Regions from separate parts of the Homo sapiens genome. Here region 2 is linked to region 1. The links come from fine-mapping of genetic effects on gene expression. A gene starts in region 1. The other region holds a variant in brackets. All regions are shown on one strand. Distances are between the middles of the regions.

Region 1 (5,484 bases):
AGGAACAGATCAGAGGTTTCTCCCTGTGACCAATCCACAGCAGCGCCTCCGCCGCTCACCCAGACAACAAGAGCTTGTACAGACAAAGAGTAGGTGAAGGTTCGACCCACGGCCCTGACTGACAGCGGCAATAGCCAATACAGACAACAGAACAGGCTCTGGCATATCAACCAACGAACAGCCGCCCCGAAGAGCAAGGTTGCCGCTGATTGGCTTGCGGTATGTTTTCGGAATGACGCCAAAGGCCGAAGCACGCCAGGTAATCCCGGCTGGAAGAGGCGGAGTCCCAAAAGTCGGTCCGCTGGTTTGCAGCCTGGTTTTTTGCGGTGGTTTCCAAGCCCCAGGCATCGACGCAAGCTCCGACAGGGGCAAAATACGTGTATACCGGAGACTGGTCTGCCCACAACATCCCACTCCCCCAGTTCTGTACAAGCCGAAGCACCGGATGTAATTTAATAGGGTGGGGAAGATACTCAAGAGCGGGCATGGGACGGGGCGCAGAGTCCGGGTTAAGGGCCTTACGTAGCCAAAAGGGGGGATCCAGGACCCTCGGGCCCCCCCAGCCGCATCTGCAGGTTGATGCGGTAGCACTGAAGACTACAGAGTGCCTGGCCTGTGCGGGAGCAAGCGTAGCGGCGCGGATGGGGACAGCCGGGGACAGAGCAGCGCGGCGGCGGGCCTGAGGGGGATGGCCGCTGAGACACTGCCGTGGGGGCGGGGACGCCAGGTGGGAAGGAAAGGGTGGAACCCTGTGCTCCGCTGCAGTAGCGCACCATGGGGGCCGGAGCCGCAGCCCGCCCTCCCCGCCGCTCGCCCCGTGCGCCCCCCCGGCCTCCCCGCCCACTGGTCGCCGCAGTCTTGGTGAGGCGCTCGATAGTCTGGTTCTTGTGCTCTTCTGCCCGCCGCGCCGCCTGGAGCCGCCGCTTCCGCGCCCGCTCCTCGCGCTTCAGCAGCATCTCCTCTGTGAGGGCGGGAGGTGGGCAGCCCTCAGCTACAGGCAGCGGCAGCATAGGGGAAGGTTGACTCCGCGCCTTCTGGAGCAGAGCTCGCTAGGGAGAGACAGAGACGGGGTGCTGTCTGAAAATGGAGGAAGATGGAGAGGCGAGGTCGGCCAGATCGGGGGAGGGGAAAGAAGGGACATGGAAGGCAGGGTCTTGAGCAGTGCAGGCCTTCGGAGGCGGGATATTAATTAATGAGCACCCTCTCCAGGACACCTTCCATAGGTTCCTCTTCATAAATACTGCCTCCTCCCAGATCTCCTGACATTTAGCTTTAGGTCCTTATCTCTCAAGGGGAGAAGCATCAGTAATGTTACCTGCCTGACCTGTGCACCAAAACTGTACCAGCTTTCCCAGAGGTCTGTTGTTATTTTTAATCTTATCTCAATAGAGAGTATCAGGTGGATAACTGCTCAAGCCAAAATCCCAGGCTTAGCCTTGATATATTTTCTCTCCATTCCCCTCCCCACAAGTATCTACTTCCAAAATATAGCCATAATTCATCTGATTTTCTCCATCTCCACCACTTTCGTCTTGGTTAAAGCAACCACTGCCTCTCAGCTGATTACTTCAACAGCTTCCTAGTTGTTCTCCATACTTCTATCTCTTGTCTCCACGAAGATTCATTCTCTACAAAGATGCCAAAGTAATCTATTGAAATGTAAACCAAGTATGTCACTTCTCTGCGTACAGCCCTTCAGTGGCTTGTCCACTTTTTCTTCTCCTTTGCTAGACATGTTCCAGTCTCAAGGTCTGTGCGCCTGCTGGTCTCTGCTCAAAAGCTCTTCTGGTATTGCAAATGTTATCTCTTCAAAGAAGCCTTCTCTAACTACCCTAATGTCTCTCTTCCATCATTTCTATCTGTTTGTTTACGCCACTTTCTATTTCATCACCCTTTTCTTTTTGTCATAAACCATATAGCTTTTTGAAATTATTTACTTATTTACTTCCCAGCCCCCCAACACACACACTAGAATACTAGCTCCAGGAGAACAGAAACTTTGTCTTTTCTCTACTATCGATATCCCCAATGCCACGCAAAGTGCGTGGGTCGTGGAGAGTTCTCAATACTGTATACATTTGGTGAGTGAATAAACAATGAACCAACATACCTGTCGAGCAGTAAGCAGCCGCTCATTGATCTCCTTCTTGAGGTCTCCATTGTCATCCAGCTCCCCCTTCTCCAGGGCATCCAGCCACCTCTGTTCCTCCTCTTCCTCCTGACCCCCTAACCCTCCTGATAGGTCCCGAAGTGGAGAGGGAGAGAGATTACTGTCTTCATCTGGGAAGGAAGTTGGAGAAAGAAAAACAGAATTGTTCAGATGGGGCACCCTAATTTGGCTGAGTTAATACTGGGACATGGAAAATCCTAACCCATTTCAGAACCAACCTTCTTTCTTTAGGCGGGTATAATAAGAAACCCAGTTTCCCCACCTCCAGATCCTCACCCAGCCAGGCACGGTACTGCTCAAGGGGGACTCCTTCCATAGGTTCCTCTTCATTATCCACAACCATAAGGGGAGAGGGTGAGCGAGGCCCCTCTGGGATCACAGTGAAGGTAGGAACACTGCAGAGAAGCAACACTACTCTTTAAAATGAGCAAGCGTCTCCTCCTCCTACTCCGTAGCTACACCCAACTTTCCCCACCCTCTTAGACTCTTGCTGCCTAAATCTGGACCCTGAAGTCACAGTGTCCATTCGGTCTTCTAGAAAGCCCAGTCGGCTTCTAACTACTATCTCTGCTCCTAAAGTTCCCCTTATAAAACTATGACCCTCTTGGCCTCACCTCTTGGTCCCCAGGACTTGTCCCCCAAGCTTGATTTTGAGTTTGAGCTGAGGCTTGGCAGGGGACGGCTGCGTGGGCCCGGCGTCTTCTTCCTGATGGTGTTTCTTCTTGTGTTTCTTCTTGTGCTTCTTGTGTTTTTTCTTGTGCACTCCATGGCCATGGGCACCCGCCAGGCTCAACTCCAGGGCTTCTCCTGTGGAAGGAAAGCCTGTCGACAGTGTTTGGCCGGAGGGTGGCAGGGGAAGCCCTGAATAACCTAAGCCCCTACTGGATCCCACCCTTCCCGCAGTACTCGCTGTTACCATAACAACAGCACCGCCTTTCTCCTTGCCACCTGTGGCCGAAGTACCCTGGACTCTCCGAGGAGCAAGAACGGGACTTCTTTTCTAACACGACCTAAATTGCTTGATCTATTCGCGCTTACCCGGCTCAGGGGCCTCCATAGCCCCAGAGGTGCTCCCACGCCGCCACAGCTTACTCATGAGGTCCTGCGAGGAAAGGGGACTAGAAATGGTTGGGACACACGCAGACACGCCTTTTCCGCCCCGCGGAAAAACTGGAGCCAGCAAAACAACCAGTTACTTCCGGTTCATGGCAACCATCCTTGTGCGGGGCACGCTTCGCGTCCAAAATCGTCCCTGAGAAACGAGGATCCTTCCAACGAACGTTCCGGTCCCTCTGAGGTCGGGACAGCCCAAATGGGCAGGGCTTTCCCCTGGCTCCGCCTCCCCACGCTAGCTTTCAGAACTCAGCGCGGATGAGTCAATTATTGAACACAAGTTTGGTGAATGTATACACTAGACCAAGTGCGGGAAGCTAGTCTAAGAGGATGCAAAGATGAATATGAACACCGCCCCTGTCCTTGAGGAACTCACAGTTGGGTGGAGGAATACATAAACTATATTGATGACAAAATGGCCGAAATGGTTAAACAGCACGAGTGCCCTAAGAGCAGATGCAGTTTAGGTATTTAAACTTCAATTTTCATAAGTAGGGAAATGAATAAATGAATTACGGTGCAGCTGTACAATGCGGAACACCATATTGCTAAGAAAAGTTGAGTTGTAAGTAATTAATGAGATTGACACAGAATTTAAACAATCTAAGTGTCCTGATGAATTGGTGTATCCATACAGTGGGATGTTAAGCAGCTTGGAAAAGAAATGAGGCGCCCCAGAAGGCTATCTAGGAAATTGGTAAGAGTCATTTGCTGATGAGCATCTAGAGAACAAGGGTGGATGGCGACCTATTTTTTTATGATTATACCCTCTTGTGCCTTTTGAATTTTGTATAAAACGTGTATATTTTACCTCATTTTAAAAAAGACATAAAAACAGGTAGGTTTGTATGTGCTGATACACGAAATAAGAAAAGTAAATTTCCCATCCTGGCTAATACGATGAAACCCCGTCTCTACTAAAAATACAAAAAAAAAAAAAAAAATTAGCCGGCGTGATGGCACGCGCCTGTAGTCCCAGCTACTCGGGAGGCTGAGGCAGGAGAATCGCTTGAACCCGGGAGGTGGAGGTCGCAGTGAGCCGAGATCGCGCCACTGCACTCCAGCCTGGTCGACAGAGCGGGACTCCGTCTCAAAAAAAAGAAAAAAAAAAAAAAGTAAATTTCAAGATTATGTGATCTGATTTTTAAAAGCATAATATACTAGCAAATACATAGAAAAAATTGAGGAATGTATACCTGTTAATGTTGGTTAACTGTAGAAGTTGGGGTTGAGGAACTTTCACTATTTAGGTATGTAATGTATTTTCTTACAGCCAATATATATCACGTTTATAATTAGAAAATAACACCTATATACATATATCTAAATATATATGAGTGTCTGAGCAAGGTAACAGCAGTGAAAAGTCTCTTACATTTCAGTGATAAAATTATCAAGAATCAATGAGCAATTATATTGGGGAATCCAGGATTAAGTCATGTAGTATGTGATTATGAAAAGGGATTTTGGAGTCAGACAAGCCTATTATCAAATCCCAGTTTCACCATTTATTAGCTATGCAACCTTGGGCCTAAAATTATTTAAGCTCTCTGAACCTGAGAATCCAGCTCTATAAGATGGAATACAGTAGGATCCACCGCTATGAGGGCTCTTTCAAGGAATAAAGGAAATCAAGAACTCATGATACTTAGGGTGGCAGCAGGCACAGGCACAGGCACATAGTAGATGCTTCAGTAAGCAAATAATAATAACTGACTCATAGGTTTCTAGCCTAAGTATTTAGCGGGAAGGTGGTATTTTCAGTAAGGAAGATAACATAGGAAGAGAAGCAAGTTAAGAAGGGAATTATTTAGTTTTGCCCAAGGCGACTTTGAAGTGCCTGTGGGAATGCCTGGGTGGAGGTGGAATAGCTGAGAGGAGAAACCAAGGATGAAAGTGTGAGTGGGGATGTCATCAGCGTAATACTGGAGGCCCCCAAGTGATGGGAGTAGATGAGACACCCAGAAAGAGTAAGTAGATAAGAGGAAAAGAACCAGGAACAGAACCAAGTGAGCACCTGTCCTGCACAGCCAGGCAGAGGGGCCAGACAGGGTTGAGAAGGTCAGGAAAGGCAGAAAGTATCAAGGGACTAAGGCTGTGATCAGCTGGGTACAGTCCTTCAGAGGGTAGGCTGAGCTCCAAGAAGAGGATGGATTTTATCACAGTGTGAAGGCAATACTCTTTTATCACCAGGAGTTACA
Region 2 (5,260 bases), 44 kb after region 1:
GTGTTGCTGCCAGAAGCCCTGAAGCTGGCCCCTGGTGTGAGCATGTGGAACCGGAGCACCCAGGTGTTGCTCAGCTCTGGTGTGCCTGAACAAGAGGACAAAGAAGGTAGCACCTTTCCTCCCGTTGAGCAACATCCCATCCAGACAGGTGCCCCAAAGCCCAGGTGACCGTAGCACAGCTAATGAAGAACTCAGCCCCCAAAGTGTGGTCACGCTCCTCTAAGCCTGCTGCCTCCCTCTGATCCCTGAGCCTCTGGCAGTAGTAACTGGTCCCTCCCTCTGCTAGCCAGAAATAAACACCTGAGTTGCCTTAGGAACTAGTCTGATGTCTCTTGTCAGTTTCTTCCAAGGGTGTCCACCCTCTCACTGAACCCCAAGGGGAGCAGTTATCCTGCAGGCCTAGAAGAAGATAGAACCAGGGTTCAGGAAATAACCCTCTCGCCACCCTTAGGAGACCCTGCATTAGGGCCAAAGCTGCCCCATTGCAGAGGCATTCTAGAGAAACCCCTGTCCCCCAAAGGAGTAGACATAAGGGCTGCCAGCGGGTCTGGCTCTGTAGAGAGAACTTCGAGTCTCCTTTCAGTAGGGGAGGAAGGAGAAGGCCCCGCATAAGCACAGAGTGATTCGAGATATGAAGAACTTGATTTCTTGCTTCCCTGGTCCCTGGAGCTTGGTCACTTCACCTTAGACTGCAAATCCAAATTTCACTTTTGAAGTTAAGGAGGAACTCTCAAACTCAAACAGTATATTGAACAAACTCAAGAGTCAGTGCCTCCTTAAATTTTATCTTAGGCTCCACACCTGCCTCATTGCTAGTCTCCACTCTGCCCAGATTTATCCTGCACCCACTTCCTCCTACAGCATTTCCCCAGCAGGCCCAGGAAGTTTCTGCTATGTTGCTGTGGGCTGCACTCAGCATCCTGGTCTGGGGCGCTGGCTCTGTCTTCCTTATTCTGGTCTTCTTCAACTACATGTGCAGCTCTGGCAGAAGTCTCATCCCTGGGACCTCCAGTGCTGCTCCACAGATCTGACTGGGAAAATAGCCATAGTGACTGGGGCCAACAGTGGTGAGTGCTCCTCCCACCCTGAATCCTCACTATGGGCCTCAGCCTCCAACAACTCTCACAGGGAAGGCAGGGAGGAGCATCCACTATCAACACCCTTGTCCCTCCCCTAGAGTGTCCCTTGTTCACTGTAGTCACCACCCAGCCGAAGTTGTCCTCCCACAGGCATCGGGAAGGTTGTATCCCAGGACCTAGCTCGGTGTGGGGCCCAAGTGATCCTTACTTGTCAGAGCAGGGAATGTGGACAGCAAGCCCTGGCTGAGATCCAAGCAGCCTCAAACAGCAACCGCCTCCTGCTTGGCGAGGTGGACCTTAGCTCCATGACCTCTATTCGGAGCTTTGCCCGGAGGCTTCTACAGGAGAATCCTGAGATACATCTGCTGGTAAACAATGCTGGAGTCAGTGGTATGTGCCTGGCTTGCTTCTCCAAACATGTTTCTGCAGTCTCCTTTCTAGCTCAGGAACTCTAAAACAGGTATCCTCAAAGCCTAGTCTATGCAATCTTGCCAAAACACTAATCCATACCCTCCCCTAAAAAGCTGACATTGAGTTATAGCCTTAAACTTCATTGCCCCCATCTTCACATGTATGTGCCCCTGTGGCATTTCTGCTGAAGGTAATATGTCCCTCCCAGACCTTGTCTCCCTCAAGGTGGTCCCTTTATCACTCAATGCCAGTGTTTTCATTTCCTCCCAGGATTCCGAAGACACTTACCCCAGGGGGCCTGGATCTCACCTTTGTCACTAACTATGTTGGGCCCTTTCTGCTCACAAATCTACTCCAAGGTAAGGAAGGATGGGCACCTTCTGTGCTGCCCTCTTCCCTATACCCCTGGCATTCTAGTAACTGTCTCCCAGGACCACCTCTTGCCTCTTGGCACCCAGCTGTTTGCTGAGTGGTGACCCAACACACTTTTTGTGTC[A/G]CACATCAGGGAAGCCCAGCTGGCACAAGTCAGTATTAGAAGGCTGATAGAAGAATCATTCAGCCCAAAATATAATCAGCAAGGGGATATGAGATCCCAGACCTCCTTCTCCCATCCCCTAGTTCTAGCCAGACCAGTAGAGTAGTTTTTGCAATGAAGGCTTCTTGAGGGGGACACTAGGCACCAGAAACAGAGAAAGCAAGAAGACTCAGTTTCTGTTCTCAGGGTCGGCCAGAGGTGTAGGCCATACAGATGATACAGTTGATACATTACTGCCTTGGGCCTAAGTCCTTTGAAGAGGCCCTTTCTGATTGAGAAAGTTTGGCTCCTCCAGGGAAAGTTTCGGGGAGTGGGTGGCAGGAACATTCTCTCTGACATTTTCTCCTAGATTGTATAATAGCCCCTTTATTATTATTATTATTTTTTAATTACTCATCCCCTTGCAATGTGATAGCCTCCTTAAAAGAAAAGCAATTTTTCTTTTGGTCAGGTAATACATATCCAAAGTACAAAATTGAAAGTGTACAAAAGGATACAGAGGGTTTTTTTTTTTAAACTATTTTTCTCTTCTGGTACATAAGCCACCTGTTCCCCTCCTGAGAGGCAACTACTGTTGCCGGAGTCTCACGTATCCTTTAGCAGTCAACTAAATTAATCCCAATTGGAAAGTGAACAAAGGCAAAACTCTATGCACCTGCAAGTATGATTGTTTTTGTCCCTTTCCACAAATTGTAACATGTCACGACACTATCTGCATCTTGCTTAGTGACAGTTTCTTAAACTTCTTTCCTGTCTCATCTTCTCTAATCTATTCTCCCCACTGCCACATCGAGTAATCACCTTTCATCATGACACTTTCTTGCTTAAAATCCTTTGAAGGTAACCTCTCCTTTGTAGGATGAACTCTAAGCCCCTTCTCTACACTTAGAAGGCTGTGTGCTAGGCTGGGTGCAGTAGCTCATGCCTGTAATCCCAGCACTTTGAGAGGCTGAGGTGGGCAAATCACCTGAGGTTGGGAGTTTGAGACCGGCCTGATCAACATGGAGAAACCCCGTCTCTACTAAAAATACAAAATTAGCTGGGCGTGGTGGTGCATGCCTGTAATCCTAGCTACTCGGGAGGCTGAGGCAGGAGAATTGCTTGAACCCGAGAGGTGGAGGTTTCAGTGAGCCAAGACCGCGCCATTGCACTCCAGCCTGGGCAACAAGAGTGAAACTCTGTCTCAAAAAAAAAAAAAAAACCCTCTGCTGACTAAGAGCCTTGCCTTTTGCCCTTCCTTAACCCACCTCCTAGTCTCCAGCCAGACAATCTGCAGCTCTTGGACCACGGTCTGTTTTTTTTCACCCTCTGGCTGTGTTTTTGCACATACGGTTCCTTCTATCTGGAATATCCTTTCTCATCATGTTGGCCTGGCTAACTTTAGTTCACCTGCCAAGACGCAGCACAGATATCACCTCTGCTGTGGATCTTTCCCCAACCTTCACCTCCCCCAGTCACCCCTATTTATGGGGCTCCATTAGCCCCCTTGTACATATCTCTGTGACTGCACTGATGTTGCTCTGTGAGGATCAGTCTCTCCAACTGAGCAGAGAACACTTTTGGTCTCTATGTCACTGTCTGCAAATTTAAAGTCCATTGTCTTCTTTAAGAATAATTTTCTTTCCAGCAAATTTTGGCTAAATACCACCTGCTCAGTTTCTCATTTGTAATTTGTAATTTTTAAATTTTATTTTGTATTAATTTTTTTTTCTGGGGAGAGAAGGAGCAGTGCTGGAAGCAGTCCATGCAGCAGGCTGGCCTCCCACTGAGTGAGTCTTAATTTCAAAATAGTTTTAGCATTTTAAAAACAATACTGTAAACTCATATGTGACAACAACTATTTTTTATACTTTACATAATCCAGACTTTTTTTTTTTTTTTTTTTTTTTTGGAGACGGAGTTTCGCTCTTGTTTACCAGGTTGGAGTACAGTGGCGCGATCTCGGCTCACTGCAACCTCCGCCTCTTGGGTTCAAGCGATTCTCCTGCTTCACCCTCCCGAGTAGCTGGGATTACAGGTGCCCAACACCATGCCTGGCTAATTTTTTGTATTTTTGCTAGATACGGGGTTTTGCCATGTTGGGCAGGCTGGTCTCAAACTCCTGACCTCAGGCCTCCCACCTTGGCCTCAAACTCTCGCCTTGGCCTCCCAAAGTGCTGGGATTACAGGCATCAGCCACCACACCCAGCCAATCCAGACTTTTTTGTATACTTATTGATATGGTTTGGCTCTGTGTCCCCACCCAAATCTCATCTCCAGCTGTAATCCCCATATGTAGAGGGAGGGACCTGGTGGGAAGTGATTGGGTCATGGGGGCAGTTCCCCCGTGCTGTTCTTGTGATATTGAGAGAGATCTCACAAGATTTGATGGTTTTAAAAGTGGCAGTTTTGACCTGGTGCGGTGGCTCACGCCTGTAATCCCAGCACTTTGGGAGGCCGAGGTGGGTGGATCACGAGGTCAGGAGATGGAGACCATCCTGGCTAACACGGTGAAACCCCGTTTCTACTAAAAATACAAAAAAAAAAATTAGCCAGGCGTGGTGGCGGGCGCTTGTAGTCCCAGCTACTCGGGAGGCTGAGGCAGGAGAATGGCGTGAACCCAGGAGGCGGAGCTTGCAGTGAGCCGAGATCGCGCCACTGCACTCCAGCCTGGGCGACAGAGCAAGACTCCGACTCAAAAAAAATAAAAAATAAAAAATAAATAAAAAGTGGCAGTTTTCCCCTGCCTGCTCTCTGTCTCTTCTGCCACCACGTAAGACATGCCTTGCTTCCCCTTTGTCTTCCACCATGATTATAAGTTTCCCGAGGTCTCCCCAGCCATGCAGAGTTGTGAGTCAATTAAACCACTTTTGTTTATAAATTACCCAGTCTCAGGTAGCATCTTAATAGTGGTGTGAGAACAGACTAAAACACTTATGTACTATTTTAAACATTTTTTTTAAGATTTAACTTTAGGATTTTAATTTTGTTTTTGTTTGAAACATAGTTGGTTTTTTTTTTTTTAAATATTAAGCTTGTTAATAGTTTTCCAGTGATGACCTTCCCTAGCTTTGTTTCTTTAAAAACATTTTCTCAAGTATCTCTGCACACATATTTCTTTTCCCCCAAACCTAGCACCGTTATGTCCTTAGCACCTAGCTTAGTGTCTGCCATATTCCAGGTGCCTAATGAACATTTGTGGGATGGATAAATGAAGGAATGAATGTATGAATACATGAAAGCAACTTTCACAGTG

What was found. PIP is the estimated chance that this variant, and not a neighbour inherited with it, causes the effect.
Region 2: its variant is the best candidate, but not a certain one, in a credible set for the expression of INO80B in whole blood (TOPMed, PIP 0.78).

What each region holds. Positions count from the first base shown.
Region 1 is chr2:74,452,899-74,458,382 of GRCh38, reverse strand. INO80B (INO80 complex subunit B) reads right to left here and starts at 3,296. Exons shown (of 5, transcript NM_031288.4): 1 at 3,209-3,296; 2 at 2,785-2,977; 3 at 2,447-2,565; 4 at 2,111-2,280; 5 at 439-1,049. The coding sequence starts at 3,266. The coding sequence ends at 519. INO80B-WBP1 (INO80B-WBP1 readthrough (NMD candidate)) reads right to left here and starts at 3,360. Exons shown (of 8, transcript NR_037849.1): 1 at 3,209-3,360; 2 at 2,785-2,977; 3 at 2,447-2,565; 4 at 2,111-2,280; 5 at 523-1,049. RefSeq lists enhancers at 1-67, 293-442, 68-574, 1,073-1,142, 3,193-3,782 and a silencer at 693-932.
Region 2 is chr2:74,409,237-74,414,496 of GRCh38, reverse strand. It overlaps C2orf81 (chromosome 2 open reading frame 81), which reads left to right. Exons shown (of 3, transcript NM_001316764.3): 3 at 1-320. The coding sequence ends at 168. Among named protein-coding and RNA genes, the nearest start is that of C2orf81, 9.8 kb to the left of the region's middle. The variant A/G (reference allele first, on the strand shown) is at 1,987.